Regions from separate parts of the Homo sapiens genome. Here region 1 is linked to region 2. The links come from fine-mapping of genetic effects on gene expression. A gene starts in region 2. The other region holds a variant in brackets. All regions are shown on one strand. Distances are between the middles of the regions.

Region 1 (11,894 bases), 38 kb after region 2:
AATCTTGCTGTCATCCTGTTTCCTGCCTCATATCACTGATAACATTTCTCAAGCAAGTGGCCTACAGCGGTACCAATTCCTGGCTTCTCCTTAACCCTCAGGAGAAAAAGCCTCATTCCCTTCACCCCCAACCCTAAACTTTAGTACAGAGACACCCAAAGTTTATCAAAAGTGTTTGAATGGCCAAACCCAGAGGCCTTTTCTCGGTAATTCTTCTCTTTCAATTCAATTGAACAAGCGTGTTTTAGTGCCTACTATCACTTGGGTACAAAGAGGAATAAGTCACCCTCCTTGGCCTCAAGGGGTAGGGCTTGGGAGCAGCTATCATGTAAGTAAGGCAATACCTGAGATAGGAACTGTGAGGTAAAGTGTGAATGATGTGGGTTCTGGCCCCCAGCACTCAGCCTTATCATAGGTCTTTGCATCTACATCTATTAGGAATGGATGATTGAATGGATGAATGAACTCCACAGGAAGATGAGGAAAGCCTTTATGGATGGAGTGAGCTTGCAGCAGAGTCTCAAAGGGTGAGTAGAGTTTTCCAGGTAGGGAAGTGTGTGGGTGAGTAGTCCAGATCGAGTCAAAGGTATGGGAGCAAGGAACGGCCTGGTGCATTCCAGAAGTGTTGATAATGTCACTGGCTGACTCGGAGGGTGTGAAGGGGAGGAGAAGGAGGGAAGGCTAGAGAGGGAAGGTAGAAAGGAAGTGGAGGCGAAAAAAGATGCTGAAGGGCCTCCTGTACCTCCAGGAAGAGTTTGAATGTTATCATTTGGGCAATGGGAAGCTATTCCTGGGTCTTCACAAGGGAATCAGTTGGTGAGAACTGCTGTTTAGAAAGACAGCCCTGGCAGCAACTCAAGCGCTGGGAGAGGACAGAACCACCAGGGAAGAGGGTATGGGGAAGAAGAGCAGCAGGCTGAGGACAGGCCCAGGACTGAAGAATCAGGCACAGGAAGAAGAGTCCATGGGGCAGGCTGTGAAATGGACAAAGGAAAACCAGAGGTGCTTCCCAAGCAGGGGGCCTGGCCACCAGAGTCCCAAGCTACCAAGATGTCAAGTAAAGAAGAACTGAAAGCCAACTGCTGGATGCAGCAGTGAGTGGGGGTCACAGTGGCCTTTGCCAGAACTGTTCCAGTGGAGGAGTAGAGGAAGAGAGAAAACCACAGGAGCAGGCATCGCAAGCTCATGCTCCACCCACACGTCCCCTTTCTCCTTTAGTCCTGTGACCCATGTGCTTGCTCTCTTTCTCTCTCAAAGGAGATCCAAATTTAAAAATATGGAGCCAAGGGAATCAGTTCCTTTGCGAACACACTGAACGTTAGTTTTCTTCTTCTCTTTTGCAAAAACTTCTTATTTCACAAAATACTCAAACAAATAGACAAAGTACAGTGAAGTCCAGGTAGATATCATCCACCTTCAGCAATGATCAATCCATGGCCAATCTTTCATCTCAACACTCGTATCCTCATTCTTGTGGAGCAAATGCCAGACATTCTTTCATCCATCAGTATGTCAATATGTATCTCTGAAATAGAAGGACTTTTTATAAAACATAATCATAATATAATTAATATTCATTCCCCAATTGTTTTGTTATTGTCTTTTACAGTTTAATTTTTGTTTTGTTTTGTTTCGTTTCTTTTTGAGACAGGATCTTGCTCTGTTACCCAGGCTGGAGTGCAGTGGTGCGATCATGACCCATTGCAGCCTCTACCTCCTGGGCTCAGGTGATCTTCCCACCTCAGCCTCCCAAGTAGCTGGGACTACAGGTGCATGCCACCATGTCCAGCTACTTTTTTGTATTTTTGTAGAGATGAGGTCTCACCATGTTGCCCAGGCCAGTCTCAAACTCCTGGGCTCAAGTGATCCACTTGCCCCAGCCTTCCAAAGTGCTAGGATTACAGGCATGATCCATAATACCCAGCTACGGTTTGTTTTCATTTGGATGCTAATAAGACCCATACATTCCATTTGGTTGATCTATCTCTTCAATTTCTTTTAAATTTATAATTTTATAAGGTCCCCTTCCACATTTTTCTTTGTGGAAGAGGAGAAAAGACCCTTGTTCTCTGGATCACTCTGTGGTTAAGGGGGTAGGTCCTCAAATCAGATGCCCTGGTTCTATTTTGCTTTCTTGTTTTTTAGTACTTTTTGTTTGTTACCTACACACAGAAAAGTACATGAATCATAAGTGAGCAGCTTGATGAATTTTCATAAGTGAACACACCTGTGTAACCACCACCCAGCTCAGGAACAGGGCATCACTGGCACCCAAGAACCCCCTCTCAGGCCCTTTCCCAGTCTCTACCACCTCACAAAGGTCAGGTGACTTTTTCACACCACAGCCATGTGTTACCTCTTTTTGAACTTTATATAAATAAAATCATAGCATACATTTCTTGGATGACTGGCTTCTTTCACTCACCTTTATGCTGGTGGCATGCTTATCGTAATGATTTGTTCATTCCCAATGCTGCATAGTATTCCATTGAATATGAATGTTCTACAATCTGTTTATCCATTCTAGTGTTGATGGACATTTGGACAGTTTACAATCTTAAGCTATTACGAATGGTGCTATTGTGAATGTTATTGTCCGTGTGTTTCTTTGGGTACATACTTAAGAATGAGAATTATGCATGCTCATGTTGCCAAGGTTTTAATTTTGGGTTTACTTAATATCACTTTTGTGACCTCAAGCACATTATTTTACCTCTCTGGCCTCAGTTTCTTAATCTGTAAAACAGGCATAATCATATTCACCCTGTGGAGTTATTGGGAGGATTAAATATTTAAAAAAATCTAAAACTCTTAGAATCGTGCTTGTCTCTTAGTAAGGGTTTTATAAATGTTAGCTGTCAACCCTTCCTCCCTTTGTGGTGGTAACTTCTCAAGCTCCTTCACTGTTTTTCTCCTCCTGCCAAGTTTCATTCTCCCAAGTTCAAGTTAACCTGGTCTGCTTTTCTTTCTCTCTGAAACTTGTCTATGCCTATGACTTCCATTATCTTGTACTGTGGACAGCTTTTGCAACGTGTTACCTAGAAACTATGACTCCAAATCCCCTTGTCTACAAAACTCAGCCTCTCCCCTGCTTACCAATGCTCCCTTTCTAGTAATGATGTCATATTTTCCCTTTCCCTTGAATATATGTGTCACCAAAATCTCAACAGATCTAAAGTAAATTTACCTTTCTCTCCCATATTAGAACCACCTTGGGATCATCTCTGACCCTTCTCTCTTTCTTGCACCCCATATTTAATCTGTGGGGAAGTCCTGAAGAATCTATGCTCACATCACTGTTATTCTTTTCTTTTTACTTCCACTGTCTAGTTCAGGCCCTTAACAACTTACATTGAAACTAATGCAATAACCTGTTATCTCTTCTACCTGGCTCCAACCTCTCCTATTTCTAATTTTCTCTGAACATTGCCTCCAGATTAATTGGACTAAAATATGGCTTCATAATAAATCATCATGATAGGGCATATAACTGTGAAAAGAAAATAAAGCCTTGGGACCCCAAACTCACTATGTCAAAGGGAAAAATTAAGCTTGGAAACTGAGTCACACAAAAACTGCCTTCCTTTTGCTCCTAAACAGATCGTTGCATTTGGATATTTGGACTGTTTACAACCTTAAGCTATTACAAATGGCGCTATTATGAACGTTATTGTCCATGTTTTTCTCTGGGTACTTAGTTAGGAATGAGTATGTGATAACGGAAGGCCATCTATCTCCCCAGGTGGCCTTCCTCACAATTGCTTACAAGGAAATTTTTTGTGGGTCCCAAATCTTTCAGAATACATATCCTCCTGATGAACTACCCCTAAAACACAGTTCTGTTGAATCTCACCCTGACAATGTAGGCTTTTTTTTTTTCTTTTTTTTTTTCTTGTGAGACAGAGTCTTGTCATCCAGGCTGGAGTGCAGTGGCACGATCTTGGCTCACTACAACCTCTGCCTCCCAGATTCAAGCAATTCTCCTGTCTCAGCCTC[C/T]TGAATAACTGGGACTCCAGGTGCCTGCCACCAAGCCTGGCTAATTTTTTGTACTTTTAATAGACATGGGCATTTCACCATGTTGCCCAGGCTCATCTCGAACTCCTGACCTCAAGTGATCCACCTGCCTCAGCCTCCCAAAGTGCTGGGATTACAGGCATGAGTCACTGTGCCTGGCCAACTATGTAGATTAACATCTTATCTTCACAGGTATGAGACAAAGACCAGACTAGAAATAATTCCTCTGCCCACCCAAGACAAATGCATATTAGATTTCTTCCTCTACTCTGTGTTTACATATTTTATGTAAAATGTAGATTTACCAAGCAAGAAAACTAACATAATTGACTGTTCCTCTACCCGCCCCTTTCACATGTAAAATGTAGATTCAGCGAGTGCTAATCAAAGCCGCATAGGAAAGTAATCTCCTGTCTCATTGCTTACCCTTCCTTCTTTTTTTCCTTTCCTCTCTAAAGTCCTGAAAAACCCTTTTTGGAAAAAGCACAGGCCACAGATCCTATGGTAACTTGTGTTTCTTTCTCCCAGAAGAACTATGGTTACTTGTGTTTCTTTCTCCCAGAAGAAGAAATAAAACAAACTTCTACATGGCAAAATAAACCTCTACATGGCAAAATAAACCTCTACATGGCAAAATAAACCTCTACATGGATAGAGATCTGTCTCAGACACATTTTGGTTTCCATGACTTCTGAATGGCAGCATGAGGAGCTCCATGAACCCTCTCCCCAGTGAAATGACCATAATCTCTGGAAATTGCTTAAGATCAAAGCCACAACTATTTAAAGCCTTTGGAAATTGTTTTATGGGGATGCGGCAAATTAATAAACTTTTATTCAAGAAAATGTACTAAGTCTCAGTAAGAACAGTGAGAGTCAATAACATTTGTACCACAAAAGACTTCCTCCCTCCTTCTTCTAGCTCAGCATGATGGAAAAGTTACTCTAAGTAGGTGAAGCCGAGAACACGGGCTACCTCTTTCCCCAGCTCTCAGTTGAGGGCTACTATATCTCGCTGGGAGGGCGGCTGCCAGCATTTCTCATACCCTCCAGCTTCATGCTGCAAAAGCTCTACTTTGGACAAGACTGGCTGATAAATCTGGGGCTCACTTCGTAAACCTAGCCCCCAATCATAGGGCAGAAACTCCACCTCGGCCATGGCAGGCTGAGAATACTGGAGCCTGTGTTACCCTGGCCTCAGCTTGCTCATGGGGCAGAGATTCTTTACAGGAAAGGCAAGAGCAGAAGAGCAAAAGCTACTGCTCTGCCCAGCACTCTGCTCATAAAGCCGGATTGTCATCCTGAGATAAGGGGGCCACTGTCTCTGCCTGAGTTCCCCAAGCTCCGGAGCAGTGGTGCAGAGGTTTTGCCCAAGGGGAGAGGAAGGCGGTAGATACAGAGACCTCTGAAGTTCTTCCCAAGAAAACACTTTATGTAGAACACAATGTGGGAAAGTTCAAGTGTAAGGGTGTTCTCAAAAACAATGAAGATTTTGTTGGTAAGCAATTAAGAGGAGCCTGGGAACTCCATTCAAGCAACAAGCTGAACTGTAGACCAGCTAGAAGTGTTCTGGAGAGAACCAGGGAAAGCATCAGCTAAGAAGAGCCCCCTTGGTGTTAGAATAAGTCTCAAAGACTGACCTGAAAGATTACCCTTGCAAAGGGGCCCAAATTTAATGTACAAGACAGGAGCAATTCATGCCTCCAGGGCATTATCAAACACGAAAGAACAATCAGCCAGCAGTTGGTGGAGGCTAACGGCTGTATGTGATACCATAGCAGGCTGACAGCTTAACAAAGAGATAAGGTAAAGAGAAAAGGAGACTTTTTTTTTTTTTTTTTTAAGATGGAGTCTCACTCTGTCGCCCAGGCTGGAGTGCAGTGGCCCAATCTCAACTCATTGCAGCCTCTCACTCCCAGGTTCAAGTGATTCTCCTGCCTCAGCCTCCCAAATAGTTGAGATTACAGGCGTGAGCCACCACACCTGGCCCAAATTTTACTCTTCTAGGCACCTCATGTAAGTGGAATCATACAGTATTTGTCCTCTTGTGATTGGCTAATTTCACTTTACATAATGTCTTCAAGTATCATCCATATTGCAGCATGTGTCAGAATTGTCAGAATTTCATTCCTTTTTTTTTTTTTCTTGAGACAGGGTCTCACTCTGTCTCCCTGGCTGGAGTACAGTGGCACAATCACAGTTCACTGCAACCTCAACCTCCTGGGCTCAAATGATCCTCCTACCTCAGCCTCCCAAGTAGATGGGACTACAGGAGCACGCCACCATGCCCAGCTAATTTTTTTTTTTTTTTTTTTTTTTTTTACTTTTTTGTAGAGACAGGATCTCACTGTATTGCCCAGGCTGGTCTTGAACTCTTGGGCTCAAGCAATCCTCTTGCCTCTGCCTCCCAAAATGCTGGGATTACAAGCATGAGCCACTGCACCGGCCAATTTCATCCCTGTGAAAGCTGAATAGTATTCCATTACTTGTACTTACCAATTTTATTTATCCCTTCATCCATCAATGGACATTTGGGTTGTTTCCCCCTTTTGGCCATTATGAATAATGCTGCTATGAACCCTGGCATACAAATCAAATGTAACTTAAATGCCACGTCTGCATTGTGGGTGATACAAGAGATGATTATAGAATAGCACATGGAAGAACATTTAAAAACATAAATTTAAAATGTCATATTTAAAAATGTAATAGTTGGCCGGGTGCAGTGGCTCAAGCCTATAGTCCCAGCACTCTGGGAGGCCGAGGCAGGGGAATCACTTGAGGTCAGGAATTCAAGACCAGCCTGGCCACTAAAAACACACACACAAAAATTAGACAGACGTGGTGGCGCACGCGTGTAATCCCAGCTACTCGGGAGGCTGAGGTGGGAGGATCCCTTGAACCCAGGAGATGGAGGTTGCAGTGAGCCAAGGTCGTGCCACTGTACTCCAGCCTGGGCAACAGAGCAAGACTCTGTCTCAAAAAATTAATAAATAAAAATAATAAAATGTAATCCTTATGAAATGATTTTAATGTAATTAGAATAACTATAATCACACTTTAAGCCTGCAATATCACATATATTATTGCTTCGGCCCACAAGGTTTCTCAACCTCAGCACTATTGACATTTGGGATAATTCTTTGTTGTGGGGCTGTCCTGGGCACTGGAGGGTGGTTAGCAGCATCTCTAGCCCCTACCCACTAGAGGTCAACAGCACCCCTGCAGTTGTGACAACCACAGACATTGTCAAGTGTCCCCTGAGGGATGAAACTGCCCCCAGTTGAGAACCACTGGTTTAGGATGGGGCTGAATAAGGTATTTAATTTTAAAAGTTGAGTCAATTTAATAACATTATTAAGTAAATAATAAAGCAGAGAGTACAGAGATAGGGTCAAAATTATCAATGTGGTTTGCAGATGCCTGGAGTTTGGGATGTTTGCTCTGCAACTATGCGAGGATATCCAAATACCCAAGGGGCTGAGACGAAGCCATTAACTAAGATGAAGGCATTATCTGGCCTCCACCACCAGCCCCATCCATTTTTTTCATCTTCTCGCCTACTGGGTCCCTATTTGACTCTGCTATGGACAAACTATCTTGTGTTCATCCACTCACAGGCCTACCTGGAATGCCATGCTCCCTCACCGCCAATGCTGCCCTACCAAATTCAGCCCATAGACCTTCAAAAACCAATTCAAATCTCCAAGAATCCAAGTCAGAAGAAATTGCTGCCTCCTCTGAATAATTATTGCTGACACTGATTGCACTCTGTGCTTATTGCTCAGTCCTTTGAGTTATCTCGTCAATATTTCCCATTTGTCCTATATCCATCCCCACCTAGGAATGAATGGGACTTCATGATTCTGTCTTTCTAGTATTAGATGTCTTGCTCAGTAAAAAATGTTTACTGTCTTGTAAATTAATTTAAATATATGGTAAAATAATATAGGGGTCTCTGGAAAGATGGAAATTGTTTGTTATTGTTTTTGAGACGGAGTCTCACTCTGTTGCCCAGGCTGCAGTGCAATGGTGTAATCTCAGTGCAATCTTGGCTCACTGCAACCTCCGCCTACCAGGTTCAAGCGATTCTCCTGCCTCAACCTCCCAGGTAGCTGGAATTACAGGCGCCTGCCACCACGCTGGGCTAATTTTTGTATTTTAAGTAGAGACGGAGTTTCACCATGTTGGCCAGGCTGGTCTCGAGCTCCTGACCTCAAGTGATCCACCCGCCTGGGCCTCCCAAACTGCTGGGATTACAGGTGTGAGCCACTGTGCCCGGCCTGTTTTTGTTTTTTTGTGGGTTTTTTGTAGTTGTTGTTATTTTTTTACACTGCATCTCGCCTTCTCCGGAAATAGTTTTAAAATAGCTCAATAACATAAAATTATGTAGGAAAGGGTGTATGATGAGCTTATTTAATGCACAAGTTTTATCGACTGTTTTGCAATTAATAGTATGAAAAACTCAATTTTTATTTCTGTAATTAAGAATGACATCAGGAAGAGGAATGCATGGTGACTAAGAAGAAGTCATCATTAGCCAGTCACCTGTCAGATATTCTGTATGTATCTGATTATAAGATTAGAACACTTTTTCATCTGTGTGTGTGCGCGCGTGCACGTGCGTGTATGTGTGTTTGTGTGTTTCATGAGCATTTTTAGTACTGGGTCCTATATATGTAAGTATAAATATTACCATAAAATTTATCAACCAAATTGGGACTATTTGAGAGTCACCTGGTGGGAGGGAGGGCACTATTAAAATTTTGCCAGGACAACATACATAAGCCAGGAGTGTTCATCTTATGATTTTACTATAGACAACTCACATATAGCTTAAGAAAGCAGCTCAAATCACAGACAAGATTATTTTTCATGATCGTTTTCACTGGCCACCAGAAAGCCTTTTCTAATAACAAAAGGACCACATTTTTGAATTTCATCATAGTTTGTCCTCATGGAACTATTGCATGCTGGGACTTAAAGCCTCTAAACAAACTTCATCTCCATTACCAATAAGAAGCCAGACAGTCGACCTGGTAACAGGACATTCTGAACCTCCTTCCTAGACTGCATGCAGACTGCACCGGCTGTGACAATAAAGCCACAATATTGGATCCCTCAGACTGCACCATGTCATGACTGCAGGAATACTTTATGAACCTCCAGGCTGCAGCTTTTACTATTATTCTCTTAGCCTCATCCTTTCCATTTCCCTCACAGTGATTACACTGATGAGGTCTAGTCTCAAAAACCTTAACTCGGTCCTCAAACCGTTTTTGGTAACCATATTCGAAAGGAAAAGTTTCTCGCACCAGGTGGTGAGATTTTGCTAGTGTAAAAAAAAAAAAAAAAAAAATCCTGCATGTGTTGGAGAGTGTGTATATAGGAACTGTCTGTACTTTCCACTTAATTTTGTTATAAACCTAAAACTATTTATTTATTTAGAGACAGAGTCTCCCTCTGTTGCCCAGGCTGGAGTGCAGTGGTACGATCTTGGTTCACTGCATCCGCCGCCTCCTAGGTTCAAGCGATTCTCCTGCCTCAGCCTCCCAAGTAGCTGGGATTACAGGCACACGTCACCACACCCAGCTAATTTTTGTATTTTTAGTAGAGACGGTGTTTCGCCAATTGACCAGACTGGTCTCAAACTCCTGGCTTCAAGTGATCCGCCCACCTCAGCCTCCCAAAGTGTTGGGATTACAGGCATGAGCCACGGCGCCTGGCCCTAAAACTGCTTTAAAAAATAAAGTCTATCTATATTTTCTAAAAATCCTGAATCCTGTGATCACTACTTCTGAGGGCTAGAACTTAGAAAATGAGTGAGGACCTTAGAGGAAGGTTCTGAAATGGGCTCCTATAATAGCTGTGGCAAACATTTATTAAACATTTTTAGGTATTTGCCAGGTACTGTTTGATGCACTTTGCATCTGTGAACTCATCTGCCACTCAAAGGACCCCATGAGACAAGCACTTCACTGTCCTCTGCGTTTTACAGAAGAAAGTAGGGCACAGAGATGTGCTGTACTCGCCCAAGGTCACAAGGCTAGGAAGGATGGAATCAGGATCCAATCCCCAGCAGTAGAGCTTCCAAATCCCCTTTCTCTGAACCATCCCCCGAGGACACAGAATAACAAAAATGACAAACTGAGTGAATTGCTGATTTTCCTTAAAAGAATAAATAGAACATATTATCTGCTCCAACCACTGCTCCCTGCTGTCTCCCAGAGTACCTTGACTTTCTCAGGTTAGTAAATCCTGCAGAGGCCCCAGTTGAGTTAGAAGCAGTTCTGCTTTAATGAAGTCCTGCAGCTTTGGCCATCCCAGAAGGTGACTGGGGCATACCCTCTCCCTTGTTCTTTTTTATTACAAGGTACTGTCACGGTTTTGAAAATTCACTTTACAGCCACATCCCAACACCTGCTTATCTCAGGCCAAGGCTCACCAAATCCTCAATCCCAACGGGCCACTAAACTTGAAGGCAAAAATAAGTCCATTTTGTCTCCTAAATGGCCTCCCTCAGAAATGATTTATAGAATGAAATAATATGATTAAACAGAATATGGCAAGACTGCAAGCAGAAGGGAGGAAACAGAAACCAGAGACAATTAAGGAAACAGTTCTGTGTGCTGGGAAATGATAATGGATCATTCTTTAAGCCTGCCAGAGCTGCAGAGAAGATGCCCGGATCCTTTTACTCTTCCTCCTCTTCCTGAGCTCAGTCTGTGCCTCTTTTTGAGCCTCTGTGACATAATTGTGTTTTAGAATTCCTGAACTGGAAAGATGTCCTTTTCTGGAACTGGTGGCTGAACCTATGTTCCTGAGATGGGAGAAAAAAGCCATTTACACAATGGCGAGCCCATCTGCAATCTACTCCTAACAGCTGCTTTTTGTGGCTCTGAATCAAGTTGGAGAAATCATCCTGGATCTCAGGAGCCACTTCATGCTTTTCAGGGCCTAACAAGACATCTCACTTTCCCTTAGCAAACACAGGCAGAAGCAAACCTGTATTGGGCTGGGCCTATTTCCGTAACATGCATGCAGCCATGTGTATGGCTACCAAGCAGCACTGTTTAAAGACAAGAACCAGAAAACTGTGGATCAGAACCAAATGTGTACATAGATATGTGTACACACCCCTCCAAAACTAGTGACAAATCTTTTTTGTTTTTTTTTTTCTGAGACAGAGTCTCACTCTGTCATCCAAGCTGGAATGCAGTGGTGCAATCTCACTGCAGCCTCTGCTTCCTGGGTTCAAACGATTATCCTGCCTCAGCCTCCTGAGTAGCTGGGATTACAGGTGTGTGCCACCATGCCCAGCTAATTTTGTATTTTTAGTAGAGATGGGGTTTCACCATGATGGCCAGGCTGGTCTGGAACTGCTGACCTCAGGTGATCCTCCTGCCTTGGCCTCCCAAAGTGCTGGGATTACAGGCTTGAGCCACTGTGCCCAGCCTATTTTTTAAATTATTATTAATTTTTAATTGACAAAATTTGTATATATTTATGATGTACAACATGCTTTACTTATTTATGTTTATCATGTTATTATGTTTATTTGTCAAACAAGGTCTCACTCTGTGGCCCAGGCTGGAGTGCAGTGGTGCGATCACAGCTCACTGCAGCCTCAACTTCCTGGGCTCAAACAACCCTCCTGCCTCAGCCTCCCCACTAGCTGGGACTACAGGCATGCACCACCACATCAGGCTAAATTTTAAATTTTTTGTAGAGACGGGGTCTCACTATGTTGCCCAGGTTGGTCTCAGACTCCTGGGCTCCGCCTCAGCTTCCCAAAATGTTGGATTACAGGCGTGAGCCACTGTACCGGTCCATGTTTTGATACATGTATACATTGTGGGATAGCTACACCAAGCTAGTTAA
Region 2 (16,730 bases):
TCTACCCGCCTTGGCTTCCCAAAGTGCTGGGATTACAGATATAAGCCACCACCAAGCCAAGTCAATCTTAAATTACATTAAAAACAGTGTCTACTATCACTGAGTAGTACACAAGTGATTCAGAGATTTGGGGTTTGGGTCCTGGGATTACAAAATAGAAGATACAATGAAATATCTCCCTCCCATTTATTCTCTAGCCATCCAGTTCCTACCCCAGAAGCAGCCTATTTTGTTACCATATTTCATTGACTTCTAAGATATACATGTTTTTTCACATTTTAACATCTCTGAAATCAGGATGTGTCTTACAATAGCTGTCAGCTAGGTGGCTCTCATCACATTGATACCATTGCCTGCACTTGAGCAAACTTGGCTATAGCTTTGGTATTGTCATCATTTCAAATGATTTATGTGCATTGTTGACGCTACATGCGCTGACTTTACTTGCTATTTAAAATATCTTCAAAAAGACGGTACTATCAGCATTTAAATGAAAGGTCACTGTGGATGCAGAAAGTTACAGAAACAACAGTGAGGTGCAAAATTGATATTAGTGAAGCGAATTTATGAATTGTTAGAGTAATGATTTCCATTCCATATTTTCTTGCAGAGCAACCATTGAGAGGTTTTCAGCAGCAGTACCTCTCTGACTGCAATGTGCACACAAATCCGCTGGGATCTGGATAAAACACAGATTTTGATTCACTAAGTCTGGCATGGGTCAGATTCCACATTTCTTTTTTTTTTTTTTTTTTTTTTTTTGAGATGGAGTCTTGCTCTGTCACCCAGGCTGGAGTGCAATGGTGCGATCTCTGCTAACTGCAACCTCAGCCTCCCGGGTTCAAGCGATTCTCCTGCCTCAGCTTCCCAAGTAGCTGGGACTACAGGCACATACCCCCACGCCTGGCTAATTTTTTGTACTTTTAGTAGAGACAGGGTTTCACCATGTTGGCCAGGCTGGTCTCGAACTCCTGACCTCATGATCTGCCCACCTCCGCCTCCCAAAGTGCTGGGATTACAGGTGTGAGCCACGGCGTCTGGCCTCAGATTCCACGTTTCTAACAAGCCCTCTGGTGATATTGATGCTGCTGATGCATGCTTGGTCCATTTGAGGACCCCAAAGTGGAAGATACCCAAAAGAGAAAAAGGAATGTTACCTACTCAAATTCATGCCAGACAATGCAATTTAAGACTGGGGAAATTGCCAGATCTCTCAGAATAGATGCAAGAAATTTCAAAGCCATGAAGGGCTGGTGTGATCAATCATGTGTCATGCAAGGCTGTCGTTATGGCATCATGTCATATAGTTAACTGGCAGTCTTTTTTTAAATAGACTTTATCTTTTAGAGCAGTTTTAGTTCACAGCAAAATTTAGAAGTACAGAGCGTTCTCATACACTCCCTGGCCCTACACATACACAGCCTCCCCCACTATCAACATTCTGCAACAGAGAGGTAAATTTGTTATAATCAATGAACCTACATTGACACATTATTATCACCCAAAGCCCATTTCTTTTAGTGCTGAATAATATTCCATTGTCTGGAAGTACCTATAGTTTATTTACACATTCACCTACTGAAGGACATCTTGCTTGCTTCCACATTTTGATGATTATAAATAAAGCTGATTATAAACATCCATGGGCAGATTTCTGTGTGGACACCAGTTTTTAATTCATTTGGGTCAATACCAAGCAGCACAATTGCTAGTTCATATGGTAAAAGTATATTTAGTTTTGTAAGAAACCGCCAAATTAGGCTGGGAGTGGTGACTCATGCCTACAATCTCAACACTTTGGAAGTCCAAGGTAGGAAGATCACGAGTCCAGGAGTCTGAGACCAGCCTGGGCAACATAGGAAGACTCTGTCTCTACAAAATTTTTGTTTTAGAAATTAGCCTGGTATGGTAGCACATGCCTGTAGTCCCAGCTATTCAGGAGGCTGAGGTGGGAGGATTGTTTGAGCCCAGGAGTTAGAGACTGCAGTTAGCCGTGATCTTGCCACTGCACTCCAGCCTGGGTGACAGGGCAAGCCCCTGTCTCAAAAAAAAAAAAAAAAAAAAAGAAAAGAAACCATCAAATTGTCTTCCAAAGAGCCTGAAGAACCTGTAGCATTTTGCGTTCCCATCAGCAATGAATGAGAGTTCATTCATTCACACTGATTCAATGAGATGACCCAAATCCAGAACACTGACAACACTAAATGCTGGTGAGGATGTGGAGCAACACACGTGTTTGGGTCCTCGCATTGTTGATCTAATTTGAAGTTCCCTGATGACACATGATGTGGAGCATCTTTTCACATGCTTACTTCATTTGTAAAATCTTTGGTGAGGTGTCTGTTCCAGTCGCTTGTCCATTTTTCAGCTGGGTTGTTCATTTTCTTATTGTTGAGCTTTAACAGTTCTTTGTATATTTTGGATAACAATCTTTTATCAGGTGTCTTTTCCAAATACTTTTTCCCAGTTGGTGGCTTGTCTTCTAATTCTCTTGACAGTGTTTTTCACAGAGCAGAAGTTTCTCTAATTTATTGAAGTCCAATTTATCAATGATTTCTTTCATGGTTAATGCCTGTGGTGTTGCATCAAAAAAGTCATGTCCATACGCAACATCATCCAGATTTCCTCCTTTGTTGTCTTCTAGAAGTTTTATAGTTTAGTGCTTTACATATAGGTCTGTGAGCCATTTCGACTTCATTTTTATGAAGGGTGCAAGGTCTGTGTCTGAATTCTTTTTTTTTTTATTTGCATATGGATGTCCAGTTGTTCCAGGACCATTTGTTGAAAATACTGTCTTTTTTTCCATTGTATTATCCTTGCTCCTTTATCAAACATCAGTTGAGTATAGCTATGTGGGTCTGTTTCTGGGCTCTCTATTCTGTTCTATTCATCTATTTGCCTATTCTTTTATCAATATCACAGTCTCTTGATTACCGTGGCTTTATAGTAAGCCTTGAAGTTGGGTAGTATCAGTCCTCCGACTTCTTCTTCTTCTTCAACATTGTGTTGGCTATTCTGAATCTTTTGCCTCTCCGTTTAGCAGTCTTTTTTCTTTCTTGTGCATGCAACAATGGTATATCTTATAATTGAGGGCATCTTAGATCTGATGAAATATGAGAGTTCCTCATGGATATTTCTAGAGATATCTTGTGCCTATAAAAGCATATACATAAAAGTATTATTTTTCTCTCAGCCGGGCACAGTGGCTCATGCATGTAATCCCAGCACTTTGGGAGGCCGAGGCAGGCGGATCACCTGAGGTCAGGAGTTCGAGACCAGCCTAACATGGTGAAACCCCATCTCTACTAAAAATACAAAAATTAGCCGGGCATAGTGGTGGGCACCTGTAATCCCAGCTACTCAGGAGGCTGAGGCAGGAGAATCACTTGAACTCGGGAGGCAGAGGTTGCACTGAGCCAAGATTGCGCCATTGCACTCCAACCTGGGCGACAGAGCGAGACTCCGTCTCAAAAAAAAAAGAGAGAAAAAGGATTATTTTTCTCTCAAGTTTATTTGTTTGGAAAACAATAATTTATTGCTCTTCCTTCCAAGTCTTTGTGAATTTACAGAAAAAAAACAAAAACAAAAACAAAAAAACAAAAAGATCAACGTTTACAGACTGTTCAGTTCAGACTAAGAATGCCAGAGATGAGTACCTGTACTGCCGTGGCTGCCGGCTACATGGCACCAATGTTCCCCAGCAGATATGCGCTAAAGTTTAAAACAAGCCCCCTCCAGATTTGTATTATCACCTTCAGAAAGGCTGTATTCCTCACACTGCATCTCACACGACATACTCAGGTCGTTAGTCACATCTGAAAATAAACTGGCCAATAAATGTGTTTCCTTCTGTGCATCTACTTTCCACGAGGCTTCATATTCAATCCACCACCTTTTTAGCCACATTTTCTCTTCTGCTGTTTGTGCTAGAAGTTGTTGCTGTTGGGCTTCTCTGTGTTTTGCCATAAATTGGAGCAAGTTCCAAGCACCAACTACCTTCCTCTTCTCATTTTCTGCTGCTTTTGCAAGTTGGTCCACAGGCTCAATTAAACCACCAACTATTTCTGAAATGGACTGATTTTGCCCACAAAATCCATGCAGTCTTCCTTGGGGTCCCTGGTCTGCTACGTAACCTCAGGGTCCCGCACCCAGGCTTGCTCAGCTCATCAAAACACAGTCCTGCTTCACCCAGGCTGTCCTGGCCTGTTTCCCTTCCAGCTTCCCCGCAGAAGAGTGATTCTGCTCTGCAGGGTGACAGTGGCGGCCAGAGGAGGTGTGTCATCGGAAAGAAAAAAGTCTGCTTGATTGTCACAGGGACCGTTCACTTAACACGTATTTCTCGAGTGTGTGAGCATCTAGTCAATGCTGCTAGATGCCAGAGAGGCAAAGATGACTGCACTTGGTCCTAGCCCCTTGGAGCACCTTGTCTGGCACTGGCCCCACTGCTGCAGCCCTGGCTGAGGTCAGCAGGCTGCTCTCCCTCAAGTCAGTGGCCACCAGAGCCTTACCTGCCAGCCCTGTCTGCCACCATGGCTGCTGGGCCTCCCTCAAGCTTATTTTTGATGTCTATATTGTGGGTCAAATTATAAGAGGCTTTAAAAGGATGAGTGTAAATGGAGGTGTCTGTCCCCTAATGGGTGCCCAGAGGAATTTTTCCATGTCAGGTAAGGATACCTTTTTTTCTGAGGCAGGGTCTCACTCTGTCTCCCAGGCTGGAGTGCAAAGGGCGATCACAGCTCACTGCAGCCTCGACCTCCCAGGCTCAAGCAATCCTCCCACCTTTGCTTCCTGAGTAGCTGGGACTACAGGTGCTTGCCATCACAGCCAGCTAATTTTTTTTTTTTTTTTTTGTATGTTTTTGTAGAGATGGGATTTCACCATGTTGCCCAGGCTGGTCTTAAACTCAGCTCAAGCTATCTGGCCCCCTCTGCCTCCCAAAGTGCTGGGATTACAGGCGTGAGCCACTGCGCCTGCCCACCCGCCCCCCACCCCCCGACTTCTTTCTTTTTAAACATTTTTGTAAACTTCTCTCTTTTTAAACATGCACACTCACTCCACCCAAGCCTCTGAAGACAGAATTCTTGACCCTATTGCACTTACGATCTAATAGAAGAGACACAGATATAATATATTATGGTTTGATATGTTCACTGCTAGAAGTTTATGCCAAGTGCTGCTAGAACATAAATAATGGAGCAGTTCATCTTTCCTGGGGATAGGAGCCAGAGCCACAGTGAGCGCTGTTGACTGGGGTCTTAAAATTAAGCTGCATATGCCAAGCAGGGAAAGCGGGAAAGAGCATTGCCAGCAAAGGGAGCAGTATGATCAAAATTCCAAAGCAGTGCGTGCCAAAGGGCGTGTCATGAGCTGGAAAAGGTATGGTAGCACTGGTCAAGATTGCAATTTCAGTGTTCTTTTTTTTTTTTTAATTGAGACAGAGTCTCACTCTGTCACCCAGGCTGGAGTGCAGTGGCGCGATCTCAGCTCGCTGCAACTTCCACCTCCTGGGTTCAAGCAGTTTTCCTGCCTCAGCCTCCGGAGTAGCTGGGATTACAGGCACCCGCCACCACACCCAGCTGATTTTTGTATTTTTAGTAGAGACGGGGTTTCACCGTGTTGGCCAGGCTGGTCTCGAACTCCTGACCTCAAGTGATCCTCTCATCTTGGCCTCCAAAAGTGCTGGGATTACAGGCATGAGTCATGGCACCCGGCCAGTTTCAGGGTTTGTTTGAAATGATCACTTAATGAGTAACTGTCTCCCCTACTAGACTGTAAACTCTATGAGGGCCGGGGCTGGGTCTGTGTTCAACCACACTATGCCCCAGTGCTGAGCATGTCATGGCATTCAAATAAATATCCGTTGGATGGATGAATGGATGGAAGAAAGGAGGGATGAAATTTTTTAATTAAGAGATGTGTGCCAATTTTGGCAAATTTGTCAAAAATTTTGAAGAAAGTTTTTCTCAGTGAATATGAATATATTCCACTTGTGAATCTATTCACAGACTATGGGCTTGCTGGAACCTAAGAGTCATCGAGTAGTTTAGACTTCTTATCAATAGATTTTTATTTATATTCATAAGAGTATATTCTTGAATATATTTACTAATGCATTCATTAACAGTATATATTCGTATTCATTGAAAACATTAAAGAAAAAATTCTTTAGAATGGACAAATCAGAATATTTCACTTTTTTTTTTTTTTTTTTTTTGAGGCAGAGTCTGGCTCTGTTGCCGGGCTGGAGTGCAGTGGCACGATCTTGGCTCACTACAACCTCTGCCTCCTGGATTCAAGCGATTCTCCTGCCTCAGCCTCCCAAGAAGCTGGGACTACAGGTGCGTGCCACCACACCCAGATAATTTTTGTATTTTTAGGAGAGGCGGGGTTTCACCATGTTGGTCAGGGTGGTCTTGATCTCTTGACCTTGTGATCCGCCCGCCTTGGCCTCCCAAAGTGTTGGGATTACAGGCGTGAGACACAGTGCCCAGCCTAGAATATTTCATAAATGTAGCAAATTGGCTTTAGGGAACTTTTTCTGCTTCCAGCATTCAGCAGCTATTTGAAGGGTTTTGGAAGCAAAGGAATGGAGGGAGACAGGACGGCACCCTGAGGGAGACGCAGGGCTGAACGGAGCTGTTCGGGGATAGCTGTGGCTTGAGTGGGTCTGTTGGCTGAAAGGAGGGATTCGTTGAAGAAGGAGCAATGGACGAGGTGAGAGAGAGGATACTGGATGGAACCAGGTTTCAGAGGAGGCTGATGGGAGAATGTGAGGAGCACCAAAGCGAGCCTTAGGAAAAAGAAGTTCAGACAGACAGACACTTCGGTAAACCACAGCTCCCAGTATTCACCACTGTGTGTAGTCTCCTCCCACACTGACTCTGGGCTTGGTCAGCTGACAAGCTTTGGCCAATAGGGCTCTAGCAAGAAGATGCCAGCAGAGGCTTGAAAAGTGCCTACCCCTGGCCTGGGATGCTTCCTCCTGGGATGCTCCCACTTGGAACCCAACTATTGTGCTGCAGAAGTTTAACTTAACTGTGTAAGGAGGCCAAGAGGAGGCCCTGGCTGCCAGCCAGCATCAACTTCCAGTGACGTGAGTGTGCCATTCTGGAACTGGATCCTGCAGCCTCGGTGGAGCAGCCTCAGCTGATGCCATGTGGAACAGAGATGAACTGCCGCTGCCGAGCTCTGCCCACGTTGCAGAATCATGAGCAAATGTGAGTTTTGTGGTTTTAAGCCACGAAGTTTAGAGGTGGTTTGCAATAGAATGGAGGGGACTGCTTTTCTTCTGAGTTTCGGATTGAATTCTGCTTTACTATAACTTATTTATTATATATTTGTAACAATTCTGTCTCCACCCATCAGTATTCACCCGCCTAAGGGCACAGAGGCACCAGGACTCTGGGAACCTTCCTTGATGTCTGGATCTACTGCAGTGACTCTTAGTGCAGCAGTTAAAAGCCAGACTGTCCTAGTGTGAATCCGGCCTTGGCTATTCATTGGCTGGAAGACCTGAGCCAAGCCTGTGCCTCTGTCCGGGCATCTGGGTAGATGTCCTAGGAGTCCACTAAGAAGAAAACTGAGGCCAGTGAGAGGCAGAGTTGAGGCAAGGCGCAACTCTATTCCCCTGCTGGGGAAAGCAGCTCTGCCCCTCGGTCTGCCCTGCTGACCAGGCATGACACACCACCTCATCAGCAGGGCCCACGGCACCCAGACCTGGCCTGGAGGGGCTGAGACAGCATTGCTAGGGGTCAGATGGTCACAGAATAAGCAACCTGAGACCTGGAAGGGCATAAGCATCTTCCCCTACCTGGAATCAGAGGCATAGCTGAGGTCAAACATCAGGGCAGGAGGGCCTGGAGGGGGTCGGAACCAGAGGTCACCCGGGTGTTTGGTTGGGAGGGGCGTCCATCTTTATCTTATCCATCACCATCACCATTATTGCTAAACATACAGTGAGCATTACTATGTGCCGAGCACTCATCTAAGCCCTTTATACTTCTAAACTTCTAAACTTATCCTCATAGCCACTTTTGGACACCAGTACATTATTGTCTCCACATCATAGCTGAGGACTCAAGGGACAGAGGGGTTTTGTAACCTGCTGAAGAACATGCAGCAGCTGCATAGCATAGCCAGGATTTGAACCCTGGCAGCCTGGATCCAGAGCCTGCTTAGGACCACTCAGTGACACTATTGAGGATTTCAGCCACCTTCTCCATAACACTATAGTCTTGCTTTTACCCTACTCCCTCAAACATCTTTTTACCAGGTCAACATTAGCTTAAAAACTGAGACACTTTTCTTATTGAAGCACATGCTCCAAGTACACCCTCTCTGCTCCCCAATTAGACCATCATTCCTGCCTTCCCTCCGTCTTATCTCTTCTAAATCCTTACACCGAGTGCCACCTCCTCCATGAAGATTTCCTGTCCTGGTTACTTCCCACCTGGAAATTTATACCTTCTCTCTTTCTTTTTTATTTCCTTTTCTTTCTTTCTTTCTTATTTATTTATTTATTTATTTATTTATTTATTTATTTATTTATTTTGGAGACTTTTTGTTTTTTCTTTTCTTTTTCGAGACAGAGTCTTGCTCTGTCGCCCAGACTGGAGTACAGTGGGGTGATCTTGGCTCACTCTAGCCTCTGCCTCCCGGGTTCAAGTGACTCTCATGCCTCAGCCTCCCAAGTAGCTGGGACTACAGGTGTGTGCCACAAAGCCTGGCTAATTTTTTTTTTCTTTTTTTCTTTTTTTGCATTTTTAGTAGAGGTAAGGTTTCACTGTGTTGGCCAGGCTGGCCTCAAGCTCCTGGCCTCAAGTGATCCACCCGCCTCAACTTCCCAAAGTGCTGGTATTACAGGCATAAGCCACGGCGCCCGGCCTATACCTTCTTTCTTAATTTGCCCAGCACCATTTGTTTCCTCCACTAGTACATATTCCACGGCTTGCCGTAATCTGCTTTGATGCCTATGCTGACCACTGGGATGAGCCCCAGGGGCCCTCCCTTCACCATTCTGACAAATGTTCTTCCCAAAACCATGGGAGTAGCTAGGAAAAGGTAACCAACAGGGCTGTGGAGAAGACAGACAGAAGTAAGACATACAGTCCCTCAGAAGGTGGCAGCCAACCCTGCCTGAGCTCTTCTAGCACCCTAGGGGGGCAAGTTTGCTTTCAGCAGAAGAGCTGGGGTTTGGGCTGGGCATGGTGGCTCATGCCTGTAGTCCCAGCTACTGAGGAGGCTGAGGTGGGAGGATTACTTTAGCCCAGGAATTCAAGGTTAGGGTGAGCTATCTTTGTGCCACTGCACTTCAGCCTGGGCAACAGATCAAGACCCTATCTCTTTTTTAAAGAAGAAGAAGAAGGAGGAGGAGGAGAAGGAGAAGGAGAAGGAGAGGAAGAAGGGGGAGGGGGAGGAAAAGAAAGAGGAAGGAGGAAGAGGAGGGAGGAGGGGAAGGGAAAGAGGAAGGAGGAGGAGAGGAAGAGGAAGAAAAGAAGAAGAGGAAGAAGGAGGAGGAGAGGAGGAGGAGACGAGGAGGCGGAAGGAGGAGGAGGAGGAGGAAGGAGAAGGAGGAGGAGGAGAGGGAGGAGGAGAAGGAGGAGGGGGAGGAGGAGGAGAGGAGGAGGAAGAGGAGGGAGAAGGAGGAGGGGGAGAAGGAGGAGGAGGAAGAGGAGAAGAAGAAGGAGGAGGAGGAGATCTAGAGTTGAAGGCAATCTACAAGGTATATCAGCTTGGGATAAATATTTTGATATATTCATCTATGAGTTTTGTTCCCCTCCTCTTTGTATTTTTCTCTTTTCTTTTTTTTTCCTTTTTTTAATTTTTTATTATTATTATACTTTAAGTTTTAGGGTACATGTGCACAATGTGCAGGTTAGTTACATATGTATACATGTGCCATGCTGGTGTGCTGCACCCACTAACTCGTCATCTAGCATTAGGTATATCTCCCAATGCTATCCCTCCCCACTTCCCCCAACCCACAACAGGCCCCAGAGTGTGATGTTCCCCTTCCTGTGTCCATGTGTTCTCATTGTTCAATTCCCACCTATGAGTGAGAATATGCAGAGTTTGGTTTTTTGTTCTTGCGATAGTTTACTGAGAGTGATGATTTCCAGTTTCATCCATGTCCCTACAAAGGACATGAACTCATCATTTTTTATAGTTGCATGGTATTCCATGGTGTATATGTGCCACATTTTCTTAATCCAGTCTATCATTGTTGGACATCTGGGTAGGTTCCAAGTCTTTGCTATTGTGAATAATGCCGCAATAAACATAGGTGTGCATGTGTCTTTATAGCAGCATGATTTATAGTCCTTTGGGTATATACCCAGTAATGGGATGGCTGGGTCAAATGGTATTTCTAGTTCTAGAGCCCTGAGGAATCGCCACACTGAATTCCACAATGGTTGAACTAGTTTACAGTCCCACCAACAGTGTAAAAGTGTTCCTATTTCTCCACATCCTCTCCAGCACCTGTTGTTTCCTGACTTTTTAATGATTGCCATTCTAACTGGTGTGAGATGGTATCTCATTGTGGTTTTGATTTGCATTTCTCTGATGGCCAGTGATGGTGAGCATTTTTTCATGTGTTTTTTGGCTGCATAAATGTCTTCTTTTGAGAAGTGTCTGTTCACGTCCTTCGCCCACTTTTTGATGGGGTTGTTTGTTTTTTTCTTGTAAATTTGTTTGAGTTCATTGTAGATTCTGGATATTAGCCCCTTGTCAGATGAGTAGGTTGTGAAAATTTCCTCCCATTTTGTAGGTTGCCTGTTCACTCTGATGGTAGTTTCTTTTGCTGTTCAGAAGCTCTTTAGTTTAATTAGATCCCATTTGTCAATTTTGGCTTTTGTTGCCATTGCTTTTGGTGTTTTAGACATGAAGTCCTTGCCCATGCCTATGTCCTGAATGGTAAAGCCTAGGTTTTCTTCTAGGGTTTTTATGGTTTTAGGTCTAACGTTTAAGTCTTTAATCCACCTTGAATTGATTTTTGTATAAGGTGTAAGGAAGGGATGCAGTTTCAGCTTTCTACATATGGCTAGCCCGTTTTCCCAGCACCATTTATTAAATAGGGAATCCTTTCCCCATTGCTTGTTTTTCTCAGGTTTGTCAAAGATCAGATAGTTGTAGATATGCGGCGTTATTTCTGAGGGCTCTGTTCTGTTCCATTGATCTATATCTCTGTTTTGGTACCAGTACCATGCTGTTTTGGTTACTGTAGCCTTGTAGTATAGTTTGAAGTCAGGTAGTGTGACGCCTCCAGCTTTGTTCTTTTGGCTTAGGATTGACTTGGCGATGCAGGCTCTTTTTTGGTTCCATATGAACTTTAGTTTTTTCCAATTCTGTGAAGAAAGTCATTGGTAGCTTGATGGGGATGGCATTGAATCTATAAATTACCTTGGGCAGTATGGCCATTTTCACAATATTGATTCTTCCTACTCATGAGCATGGAGTGTTCTTCCATTTGTTTGTATCCTCTTTTATTTCCTTGAGCAGTGGTTTGTAGTTCTCCTTGAAGAGGTCCTTCACATCCCTTGTAAGTTGTATTCCTAGGTATTTTATTCTCTTTGAAGCAATTGTGAATGGGAGTTCACTCATGATTTGGCTCTCTGTCTGTTGTTGGTGTATGAGAATGCTTGTGATTTTTGTACATTGATTTTGTATCCTGAGACTTTGCTGAAGTTGCTTATCAGCTTAAGGAGATTTTGGGCTGAGACAATGGGGTTTTCTAGATATACAATCATGTCACCTGCAAACAGCGACAATTTGACTTCCTCTTTTCCTAATTGAATACCCTTTATTTCCTTCTCCTGCCTGATTGCCCTGGCCAGAACTTCCAACACTATGTTGAATAGGAGTGGTGAGAGAGGGCATCCCTGTCTTGTGCCAGTTTTCAAAGGAAATGCTTCCAGTTTTTGCCCATTCAGTATGATATTGGCTGTGGGTTTGTCATAGATAGCTCTTATTATTTTGAAATACGTCCCATCAGTACCTAATTTATTGAGAGTTTTTAGCATGAAGATTTGTTGAATTTTGTCAAAGGCCTTTTCTGCATCTATTGAGATAATCATGTGGTTTTTGTCTTTGGTTCTGTTTATGTGCTGGATTACGTTTATTGATTTGCGTATATTGAACCAGCCTTGCATCCCAGGGATGAAGTCCACTTGATCATGGTGGATAAGCTTTTTGATGTGCTGCTGGATTTGGTTTGCCAGTATTTTACTGAGGATTTTTGCATCGATGTTCATCAAGGATATTGGTCTAAAATTCTCTTTTTTGGTTGTGTCTCTGCCCGGCTTTGGTATCAGGATGATGCTGGCCTCATAAAATGAGTTAGGGAGGATTCCCTCTTTTTCTATTGATTGGAATAGTTTCAGAAGGAATGGTACCAGTTCCTCCTTGTACCTCTGGTAGAATTTGGCTGTGAATCCATCTGGTCCTGGACTCTTTTTGGTTGGTAAGCTATTGATTATTGCCACAATTTCAGCTCCTGTTATTGGTCTATTCAGAGATTCAACTTCTTCCTGGTTTAGTCTTGGGAGAGTGTATGTGTCGAGGAATTTATCCATTTCTTCTAGATTTTCTAGTTTTATTTGCGTAGAGGTGTTTGTAGTATTCTCTGATGGTAGTTTGTAGTTCTGTGGGATCGGTGGTGATATCCCCTTTATCATTTTTTATTGCATCTATTTGATTCTTCTCTCTTTTTTTCTTATTAGTCTTGCTAGCGGTTTATCAATTTTGTTGATCCTTTCAAAAAACCAGCTCCTGGATTCATTAATTTTTGAAGGGTTTTTTGTGTCTCTATTTCCTTCAGTTCTGCTCTGATTTTAGTTATTTCTTGCCTTCTGCTAGCTTTTGAATGTGTTTGCTCTTGCTTTTCTAGTTCTTTTAATTGTGATGTTAGGGTTTCAATTTTGGATCTTTCCTGCTTTCTCTTGTGGGCATTTAGTGCTATAAATTTCCCTCTACACACTGCTTTGAATGCGTCCCAGAGATTCTGGTATGTTGTGTCTTTGTTCTCGTTGGTTTCAAAGAACATCTTTATTTCTGCCTTCATTTCGTTATGTACCCAGTAGTCATTCAAGAGCAGGTTGTTCAGTTTCCATGTAGTTGAGCGGTTTTAAGTGAGATTCTTAATCCTGAGTTCTAGTTTGATTGCACTGTGGTCTGAGAGATAGTTTGTTATAATTTCTGTTCTTTTACATTTGCTGAGGAGAGCTTTACTTCCAAGTATGTGGTCAATTTTGGAATAGGTGTGGTGTGGTGCTGAAAAAAATGTATATTCTGTTGATTTGGGGTGGAGAGTTCTGTAGATATCTATTAGGTCCAGTTGGTGCAGAGCTGAGTTCAATTCCTGGGTATCCTTGTTGACTTTCTGTCTCATTGATCTGTCTAATGTTGACAGTGGGGTGTTAAAGTCTCCCATTATTAATGTGTGGGAGTCTAAGTCTCCTTGTAGGTCACTCAGGACTTGCTTTATGAATCTGGGTGCTCCTGTATTGGGTGCATATATATTTAGGATAGTCAGCTCTTCTTGTTGAATTGATCCCTTTACCATTATGTAATGGCCTTCTTTGTCTCTTTTGATCTTTGTTGGTTTAAAGTCTGTTTTATCAGAGCCTAGGATTGCAACCCCTGCCTTTTTTTGTTTTCCATTTGCTTGATAGATCTTCCTCCATACTTTTATTTTGAGCCTATGTGTGTCTCTGCATGTGAGATGGGTTTCCTGAATACAGCACACTGATGGGTCTTGACTCTTTATCCAATTTGCCAGTCTGTGTCTTTTAATTGGAGCATTTAGTCCATTTACATTTAAAGTTAATATTGTTATGTGTGAATTTGATCCTGTCATTATGATGTTAGCTGGTTATTTTGCTCGATAGTTCATGCAGTTTCTTCCTAGTCTCGATGGTCTTTACATTTTGGGCATGATTTTGCAGCAGCTGGTACCGGTTGTTCCTTTCCATGTTTAGCGCTTCCTTCAGGAGCTCTTTTAGGGCAGGCCTGGTGGTGAGAAAATCTCTCAGCATTTGCTTGTCTGTAAAGTATTTTATTTCTCCTTCACTTATGAAGCTTAGTTTGGCTGGATATGAAATTCTGGGTTGAAAATTCTTTTCTTTAAGAATGTTGAATATTGGCCCCCACTCTCTTCTGGCTTGTAGAGTTTCTGCCGAGAGATCCGCTGTTAGTCTGATGGGCTTCCCTTTGAGGGTAACCCAACCTTTCTCTCTGGCTGCCCTTAACATTTTTCCTTCATTTCAACTTTGGTGAATCTGACAATTATGTGTCTTGGAGTTGCTCTTCTCGAGGAGTATCTTTGTGGCGTTCTCTGTATTTCCTGAATCTGAACGTTGGCCTGCCTTGCTAGATTGGGGAAGTTCTCCTGGATAATATCCTGCAGAGTGTTTTCCAATTTGGTTCCATTCTCCCCGTCACTTTCAGGTACACCAATCAGACGTAGATTTGGTTTTTTCACATAGTCGCATATTTCTTGGAGGCTTTGCTCATTTCTTTTTATTCTTTTTTCTCTAAACTTCCCTTCTCTCTTCATTTCATTCATTTCATCTTCCATCACTGATACCCTTTCTTCCAGTTGATCGCATCAGCTCCTGAGGCTTCTGCATTCTTCACGTAGTTCTCGAGCCTTGGTTTTCAGCTCCATCAGCTCCTTTAAGCACTTCTCTGTATTAGTTATTCTAGTTATACATTCTTCTAAATTTTTTTCAAAGTTTTCAACTTCCTTGCCATTGGTTTGAATGTCCTCCCGTAGCTCGGAGTAATTTGATCGTCTGAAGCCTCCTTCTCTCAGCTCGTCAAAGTCATTTGTTCCGTTGCTGGTGAGGAACTGCGTTCCTTTGGAGGAGGTGAGGCGCTCTGCTTTTTAGAGTTTCCATTTTTTCTGCTCTGTTTTTTCCCCATCTTTGTGGTTTTATCTACTTTTGGTCTTCGATGATGGTGATGTACAGATGGGTTTTTGGTGTGGATATCCTTTCTGTTTGTTAGTTTTCCTTCTAACAGACAGGACGCTCAGCTGCAGGTCTGTTGGAGTACCCGGCCGGCCGTGTGAGGTGTCAGTCTGCCCCTGCTGGGGGGTGCCTCCCAGTTAGGCTGCCCGGAGGTCAGGCATCAGGGACCCACTTGAGGAGGCAGTCTGCCCGTTCTCAGATCTCCAGCTGCATGCTGGGAGAACCACTGCTCTCTTCAAAGCTGTCAGACAGGGACATTTAAGTCTGTAGAGGTTACTGCTGTCTTTTTGTTTGTCTGTGCCCTGCCCCCAGAGGTGGAGCCTACAGAGGCAGGCAGGCCTCCTTGAGCTGTGGTGGGCTCCACCCTGTTCGAGCTTCCTGGCTGCTTTGTTTACCTAAGGAAGCCTGGGCAATGGCGGGCGCCCCTCCCCCAGCCTCGCTGCCGCCTTGCAGTTTGATCTCAGACTGCTGTGCTAGCAATCAGTGAGACTCCGTGGGCGTAGGACCCTCTGAGCCAGGTGTGGGTTATAATCTCCTCGTGCGCCGTTTTTTAAGCCCGTCGGAAAAGCGCAGTATTCAGGTGGGAGTGACCCGATTTTCCAGGTGGCTTCTGTCACCCTTTTCTTTGACTAGGAAATGGAACTCCCTGACCCCTTGCACTTCCCAAGTAAGGCAATGCCTCGCCCTGCTTTGGCTGGCGCATGATGCACGCACCCACTGACCTGCGCCCACTGTCTGGCACTCCCTAGTGAGATGAACCCGGTACCTCAGATGGAAATGCAGAAATCACCCATCTTTTGCATCGCTCATGCTGGGAGCTGTAGACTGGAGCTGTTCCTATTCGGCCATCTTGGCTCCTCCCCCGTATTTTTCTCTTTTCTATTCCTCCAAATGTGCAAGTAGTGGGCTCTGGGCAGGGCTGTGACAGAGCAGAAAATAAAAGTTGCCCACCAAACACTAACTCCCTTCCTGGACTACATTTTCATAGGTCTAGTCTAAGACTCCCTGAGGTAGAAAGAATTTCATAGAGAAGACAAAATGTCTTGGAGAAAGATGAAAGACAAAGGGTTCATCCACCCAGGGCAGAGGGGCTATGAGGAGGGAGAGGTCATGGGTCCCAGGAACAGAGCAGACCTGGCCTGTCTCCCTAGTAGACCCCAGAAGCCACACACATGAACCCAGAGAAGGATCACAGAAGAGTGTCATGGGGCGGGGGTCACTTAGATGGAATTTGCCGAGACTCTGGGCCTGAGCCTATGGAGCAGGGATGGCGGATGTCTCAGCAGCAACCATGTGGACATGTGTCCAATGAAGAAATGCTTTGCACACAGCCTAAGATTCCAGACCCAGAGAACAACCATGGGGCTATGGGTCAGGGAGGAGCAGGGAACACATCTTCAAGAACCGGGGTTAAGTTCCCCCCAGTTTAGCAGACTAGCTGATTTGTAAAACACAAAGTTAAACTTCATGTGCACCTGAGTTTGTGAACTGACATTTCCACCCACTGCACGTGTTCCCACATTGTGAGTCCTGGGGATCCAATCTGTTCCCGTTTTTGTTGGAGCAAGGGAGCCCACAAACTCACTAGAACCCATCTGCTGGGATGGGAGGTGGAGAGGAGAGGGCTGGCTTTCCCTCAGATGCCAGGCAACTGTTTCTAGGTTGCTAATCTTGCCACCTTCCCAGTTCCCTCAGCCCTGAGGAAGGCAAGGGCAGCCTGAGTTACCCCCATGAGTTAGGGAGCTTGGGGAAAACATGCAC

Alleles and levels. Alleles are on the strand shown, and positions count from the first base shown. SD is a standard deviation of normalised expression in the study named.
For the expression in esophagus muscle of the gene that starts at base 6,915 in region 2, C is the high allele of the variant in region 1 and T is the other (small effect, 0.26 SD a copy in GTEx).

Evidence for each region. PIP is the estimated chance that this variant, and not a neighbour inherited with it, causes the effect.
Region 1: its variant is fine-mapped to the expression of CARMAL in esophagus muscle (GTEx, PIP 0.93).

The regions. Positions count from the first base shown.
Region 1 is chr15:89,074,858-89,086,751 of GRCh38, forward strand. It overlaps CARMAL (coronary artery disease region linked MFGE8 regulatory lncRNA), which reads left to right. Exons shown (of 4, transcript NR_183882.1): 3 at 439-527; 4 at 7,634-9,372. It also overlaps a transcript of ABHD2 not described here. Among named protein-coding and RNA genes, the nearest start is that of ABHD2, 7.7 kb to the right of the region's middle. The variant C/T (reference allele first, on the strand shown) is at 3,997.
Region 2 is chr15:89,034,084-89,050,813 of GRCh38, forward strand. CARMAL (coronary artery disease region linked MFGE8 regulatory lncRNA) reads left to right here and starts at 6,915. Exons shown (of 4, transcript NR_183882.1): 1 at 6,915-7,217. It also overlaps a transcript of ABHD2 not described here. RefSeq lists an enhancer at 14,897-15,448.